Homo sapiens: one gene and its partner. The protein of the gene in region 2 interacts with the protein of the main gene of each other region in a pairwise test. Each region holds a gene or a part of one and is shown on either strand. Other genes may lie near its edges.

Region 1 (3,500 bases), on a different chromosome or scaffold from region 2:
GAAGGACAATCCAGGGCCCTTCCAGCCAACAATCACACATACAGCTTCCAGCCAACACCTACATTCATGTCTGCACGCTTCACATATCCAAGAATGTGTCCCACAGCACTACTTGTGATAGGAAAAAATTGGAAACAGCCTTAATGTCCATCAAAAGAAGAGTGGTTTAGGCTGGGCACAGTGGCTCACGCCTATAATCTCAGCCCTTTGGGAGGCCAAGGTGGGCAGATCACTTGAGGTCAGTAGTTCGAGACCAGCCTGGCCAACATGGCAAAACCCTGTCTCTGCTAAAAATAAAAAAATTAGCCAGGTGTGGTGGTGCATGCCTGTAGTCCCACTACTCAGGAGGCTGAGGCAGGAGAATCACTTGAACCCAGGAGGTGGAGGCTGCAGTGAGCCGAGATCACACCACCACACTCCAGCCTGGGTGACAGAGTGAGAGTTTGTCTCAAAAAAAAAAAAAAAAAAGAGAAGAGTGGCTTAAATAAACCACGGTGAATTCCCACTACAGAATACTACACAGATGTTTTAAAAGAATGAATCAATCAAATGAAAAGATCTCCATGATTATTAAATTATAATAGCAGGTTGCAAAGTAATAGATACAGCATGATCCTATTTGTTTAAAAAACAATATCCAACACAAAGCACCAAGTTTCTTTAAGTACCTGTATAAATACATAAGCACATAGAAAATGACCCGGAAGGGCTAGGTGCAGTGGCTCACACCTGTAATCCCAGCACTTTGGGAGGCCGAGGCAGGTGGATTGCTTGAGTCCAGGAGTTCAAGACCAGCCTGGGCAGCATGGTGAAACCCCATCTCTACAAAAAATACAAAAATTAGCCAGGCATGGTGATGTGCGTCTGTAGCCCCAGCTACTCCGGAGGTTGACGTGGGAGGATCACCTGAGTCAGAAGAGGTCAAGGCTGCAGTGAGCCGTGGTTGTACCACTGCACTCCAGCCTGGGTGACAGAGTGACACTCTGTCCTAACAGAAAAAAAAAAAAAAAAAAAGACCTAGAAGGACATATCCTAAATTGATGCATGTCCCTGGGAGTGAAAGGTGATTAGCTGGAATTTGGAGGTCTTTTCCTTCATCCCTATTGTTGAATTTTTAAAGTGTATTTATGTATTCCTTTGTGCAATTAATTTTATTTATTTATTTATTTATTTTTTGAGACGAAGTCTCGCTCTTGTTGCCCAGGCTGGAGTGCAATGGCGCGATCTCGGCTCACCACAACCTCTGCCTCCCGGGTTCAAGCGATTCTCCTGCCTCAGCCTCCCAAGTAGCTGGGACTACAGGTGTGCACCACCATGCCCATCTAATTTTGTACCTTAGTAGAGATGGGGTTTCTCCATGTTAGTCTCAAACTCCCGATCTCAGGTGATCCACCCACCTCGGCCTCCCAAAGTGCTGGGATTACAGGCGTGAGCCACCACGCCCAGCCCACAATTAAATTTTGTTACCATCATCTGATCATAGTGTGAGAGTTACAAGACAGACTCTGGAGCCAGACTGCCTGGTTTCAAATCCTGGCTCTGTTACAAACTAGTGGAGTGACCTTAAGCAAGTTACTTCATCTATGCTTCCACTTTCTGTTCTGTAAAATGGCACTAAAATAGCATCTACCTCATAGGATTATAATAAGGATAAAATAAAATAATACACTGAAAGTTAGAACAGTGCCAGCACATAGGAAGTCCCATAGAAGTGTTAGCTATTGTTGTCATTATTATTAGTCTCTGGCTCAGCTGTTTGATAATGATGGTGATGGTGCTGGTGACAGCAGTGATGTTTTTCCCTAGAAAGGGTCAAGGTGGTGAGCTCCCCAGAAACATATTTTACCAACAACAGGAAAAGAGAGGCACGAACAACTATTGTTGTTGTTTTAAAGATGGGGTCTTGCTCTGTTGCCTGGGCTCAAGCAATCCTCTCACCTCAGCCTCTTCGAATAGCTGTAACTAAAGGTATGTGCCACCAGGCCTGGCTAATTTTTTATATATATTTTTAGAGACAGGAGCTCGCTATGTTGCCCAGGCTGGTCTCGAACTCCTAGCTTCAAAGAATCCTCCTGCCTTGGCCTCCCAAAGTGTTGGGATTACAGTTGTGAGTCACTGCCTAGCTGAAATTTGTTGAGCACTTACTATGTGCCTGGTATTTTATGTATATTATCTAATTGACTCTTCAAACAGACTTGTGTGATAGATGTCATGACCCCTGGAGCATAAGGAGGTAAAATGCCTTGCCCAAGATCGTCCAGCTATGAGGCAAAAGAGGCAGGGCTTGAACCCTAACCAGCCAGACCCCCAAGCTCCTGCTCCAGCCCTGGCTGCACCAGGCTGCCTGGCTCTGAGCAGCAGCCAAGCCTGCCATGCTCGGCAGTGTCACTCTGCCAGCCTCTCCCTGGCTCGGCCCCCTCCTCCCCCTCACAGATATTTCTGTGATCACAGCCTCCTCCTCTGAGGAGGAGGAAAGACAGAGATGGAAGGGAAGATGGATCACTAAGACAGAATGACGCTTAGTTGGGTGAGAGAGGGTGAAAAAAGGAGGGGGAGGAGGAAAAGCGGGAGAAATTGATGGGACAGGAGAAGGGGGAGGGGAAGACGGGGCACACAGAAGGAAGACATGGGAACTGAAGGAGAGAAGGATGGATGGGAGTGGGGAGGAAGGTGAGGTGTAGAGATGGGATGAGGTTATGGACCACAGAGACCCAGAAATCCTGCCAGGAAGAGGAGGAGGCTGGGCCTCTCCTGCTGGGCTCTCCCTCAAGCCAGTGGCCCATGCTGCATCTCTGAAACTGCCCCTAACACCCTGGACCCTCCACAATCTCCCAAGGATGGCTCAGTGCCACCCACATCCAGGCCCCCACCTTCCACCCTGCTCCCAACACACACACTCCCCTGCCCTGGTAGCTCCTCACTCTGCCCCACGGCTCTTCCTCCATCCCCAGCCCACACTCCCAGCCACAGTGCTAAGCAGGACCCCTTCCTCCCAGCCCTGAGGTGGTGGGAAGACCTAGTGGAAATCACTAAGCCAACCAGTGGCCTTTTAAAAGCCCATTTCCATAAATAGACATATGGAGAGGGGATGAAATGCTCAAGGCTGACCAGCTCCCATGTTCTGACCCCAGAGGAACTGGGGCCTCGAGACCTATGCCCAGCTCCTTTCCCTCTGCAGGGAAGCTAGAGAGTGGAATGGGGCAGGAAGCCAAGGCTAAGTGGGGCTGGGCACAGGAAAAGGGAAGGGGTCCAAGACACCCACATCTGATTCATTCTCATCACTTCCTTTAGGTCCAAACATTGAGGGGGCCTCCACCTCCAGGCCAGCTCTGGTGGGAAGAAAGAGGCGGTGACCCAGGAGGGCCAATGCAATTTCTCAGATGCATTTTCCCAAAGTGCAGGCCGTTCACCAGGCAATCAGGAAAACGGCCTGCAGGAGGCTTACTTAAGGAGCCGAGTGGATTTGAAAGCAGGAACAGAGGCAGAATTTGCACACGTCA
Region 2 (3,500 bases):
GTCCAAGGTACTCTTTAGGATGGGCCTGTGAGCACCAGAACAGGTCCACTCTCTGGACAATGCCACACCCTCATCTTAGGACCCGTGCTGATCCTACTCACCCAGGCTCACACAGAAACCTCAACCTCCTGAAAGTGCTGCCTTGTAACCTGTATCACAGGAATCTGCCTGGCCTCTAAGTGGCTCTTAGAAGGCACAAAAAGCATGACAAAGGGTCTAGTGAATACCATAGTGCAGAATCTTTAAAACTAATGGGGAAGGAGGCCGGGTGTGGTGGCTCACACCTATAATCCCAGCACTGTGGGAGGCTGAGGCAGGAGGATCACCTGAGGTCAGGAGTTTGAGATCAGCCTGGCCAACATGGTGAAACCCCATCTCTACTAAAAATACAAAAATTAGCCAGACATGGTAGCAGGCACCTGTAATCACAGCTACTCAGGGGGCTGAGGCAGGAGAATCGCTTGAACCCGGTAGGTGGGGGTTGTAGTGAGCCAAGATCGCACCACCGCACTCCAGCCTGGGTGACAGAGCAAGATTCCATCTCAAAAATAAATAAATAAATAAAATAATGGGGAAGGAATGCCCAGTGCCCACCCAGAGCCTGGGATGTGGGTTCTTATAAAGCCAGGGGCTGACCATGTGGCTACAGCCCACTGGAGGCAATTCCAGAGAAGGCAGGGAACTGTTCTCAGCTGAGTCCCTCCCTGGATTATCTCCCTCCCACTCTCTCAACTCACTGAACTGCCTGGACTGAGTTCAAGCTGACCAGGTCGTGTATTCCCTCAGAGGAACTCACGTGGCAACTCAGGAAACTGGTCGTTTTTATTTGGTTAATCTTGAGGCAGAGAAAGGGCTGGTTCCTCGTGATTTACCTGGGGCCATGGCAACAAGGAACGTGTGGGCCCCTGGAACTCACAGCAGTGCCATTGTTTCAGCAGGCATACAGAGGTGCCCTCCCGGGTGGGCGGAGGGGCCAGGTGGCTGACGTGGAAAACATCCTGGCCCCGACCCTCTGCTCAGGCACGTCGGCATACCAGCCACCAGGTGGCAGCACAAACTTAGTACAGCCCTTGGCTCTAAGAAAAGGGCTTTATTTTTCCTCACGATATCAAGCCCAAATGAGGGGGTGTAGCTGTTGACTGCAATCCTGCTGGTTGCCTCCCACACGGGATTTCGCAGTTAGCCTGGAATCTGGGAGGTTGAATGCCATATGGCTTCAGCTCCCACCCAGTGCTGGAGGCTGCTGGCCTGGGCCAGGGATGGAGCAGTGGGCACAGCCAGAGTGGGTCCCCCAAGCTAGTCTCCAACACAGATTCAGGCAGAGACAGGGGTGTGGGCATCTGTGTGACATGTTGGCCTGGGAGGAAGGCGTGTCAAGGGGAGCTGGTATGTGGCTGGGTAAGAGGGGCGGCCACGGGCTCTGCAGGGCAGGGTCTAGGACAGGGTCAGGACTAGGCACCTGCTGGCGCTTCCCCAAAGCCCTCTCAGATGGGTCATGCTGCAGGTGGGGATGGTGGAAGCCCACCTTAGCTGAGAAGTCTCGGTATCTAAACCCTCCTGGTCACTCTGTAAATGTGTGGGAAACAAATAGCTGAAGTTGCCTGTGCACCATTTTATAGAAGAGCCCAGCTCTGCGGCTACCCCAGCTTCCAGCCCCTCTCTTCCCTCAGGGAGTGTGGGGACCTCGAAGCCGCCAATTGCTCACCTGGGGCTGATCCGCTTGGCCACCACAATGATGTCGCTGACACTGGCTGAAGTCTTCATCTTGGCCCCAGAGCCCATTGTCATGGCAACAAGCTTCTCTGTCAGAGTGTGACAAATCTAATGCGGCAGGGAGGAGAGAGATGAGGGCTGACCTGGCTCCACTCAGGGCCTCGCCACCCCCACGAGACAAATCAGCCCTGCCGTGAGTTCCATCGCAGCTGGCCCCCAACCTAATGGCCAGATGTGAAAAGTACAGAGATGAGAGGAAACGGGTGGGAAGTGGCAAAAGCCAAGGGCATGGCTGGGAGAGGACCTGGGGTGGGAGCCGCAGATCAAGGGCAGGGTGTGGGCTCTGGGAAGCCTAAGCTGAAATAATCTGTCTTAAGAAAAATCATGTGCTCCAATTTCACCTTCTCACTTAGGGGAAAAACCTACTTTCTTTTTCTATTCCTTCATCTCATGGTTTAGTCTTCCACAAGAATAAATATCTCCAACAAGGCACCCTCAGGAATGGGGCTGAACAAAGGGCAATTGTTCCCTTTAAGCACATGCTCCAATAACAGCACTTATTTCAACAATTGTCTCAGGTAATATATTAGCATGTTTATCAAGCTGATGATGAAAGGACCTTAGGAAAAGCAGGGAAAAGGCAAGACTGACTACAGCCTTCTTCGTGGTCCCACCCACAGAGCTGGCCACCCCAGAGCTTGCTTCCCCTTTCCAGGCCACCCCATGCTAGAACCAACCAACATGGGTGCGCCTCTATCCATGGCAAGGAAGCACCCCTACCTGACCTATACTTGGAGCTGGACAGTAGAGGGCAGAAAGAAGCCCAAAGGTCCACCTGGGAGTTAGCCCAGACCCCTCTCCCAGCTCCCACCACAGAGACTCAAGGGCAGGTGACCTAGCAAAAGAGTCTTAAGATCCCAAGAGGAGACTTAGAAGCCCTCTCCTTTGATCAGAGGTTCGCCGGGTAGACACAGATTCCAATTCAATATGACTCCCTCCAGCTGATTCATCTCACACCACAGGTGCCATTTATCCTCCTAATAGATGAGGACAGGAGACAAAACCCAGGCCCAGGACACATCTTGGCCAGGAGAAGGGAAATGTAGTATAGTATTATCTTCTAGCCATTATGCCTACCTAGCTCTATCAATAACCATATTTATATCTATAGCCATATTTGTATATCCAAAGAGCCTCTCAGAATTAACTAAGCCTGGACTCTGAGATAATAACTTCCTACTAGGCATTTATCCATCCCCTGAGAGAGACAGCCAAAGAAGAGGTGGGGTAAAGAATGTTTTATTAATAGTGTCTTCTACTGAATGACACTAAAGAAAAGACAAAGTTGTCTCTTTTGAAATCTTGAATAATTACTAGTCAAAGAGATAAATGTGTGATTACCCAGGTTACTGATGTAAAAAAAAAAACCCTGATATTTGCAACTGGCCAAATATTTCAGTATAGTTATTATTCTATTAGGTAGGATATTAACAGGCAAGAATTGAAAACAAATGCTAAAACCATAAAATTACCCAAAATGCAAATTGGATGCAATTTTTCAAAGATTCCAGGCTTTCAAAGAAAAAATCCTCTGCCTTCAGATTGAAGTATGCCTGCTTTGGTTTTTTAACACTGATTGTCCCATTTGGCTGACTACGGTCACAGCCAAAGAAGGCTAGTGATGACTTTCTAGTCACAGTAGAAATCCAAATACAGAAAGAAACTCACCATACAGGCCTGAACTCTCTGTTAGTGAAAATGAGTGTGCAGGGGGAAGCAGGGAAACC

What was found. The genes of interacting proteins can lie anywhere in the genome.
Region 1: the proteins of TMEM98 (region 2) and HTR6 interact in a two-hybrid assay, tested with the Homo sapiens proteins (one large-scale study listed by BioGRID and IntAct).

Annotation. Positions count from the first base shown.
Region 1 is NC_000001.11:19,671,375-19,674,874, reverse strand, and holds part of HTR6 (5-hydroxytryptamine receptor 6), read right to left. Parts: intron 1-3,500. UniProt on the Homo sapiens protein: G-protein coupled receptor for 5-hydroxytryptamine (serotonin), a biogenic hormone that functions as a neurotransmitter, a hormone and a mitogen. Also has a high affinity for tricyclic psychotropic drugs.
Region 2 is NC_000017.11:32,934,653-32,938,152, reverse strand, and holds part of TMEM98 (transmembrane protein 98), read right to left. Parts: intron 1,822-3,500; coding exon 1,706-1,821; intron 1-1,705. UniProt on the Homo sapiens protein: Functions as a negative regulator of MYRF in oligodendrocyte differentiation and myelination. Interacts with the C-terminal of MYRF inhibiting MYRF self-cleavage and N-fragment nuclear translocation.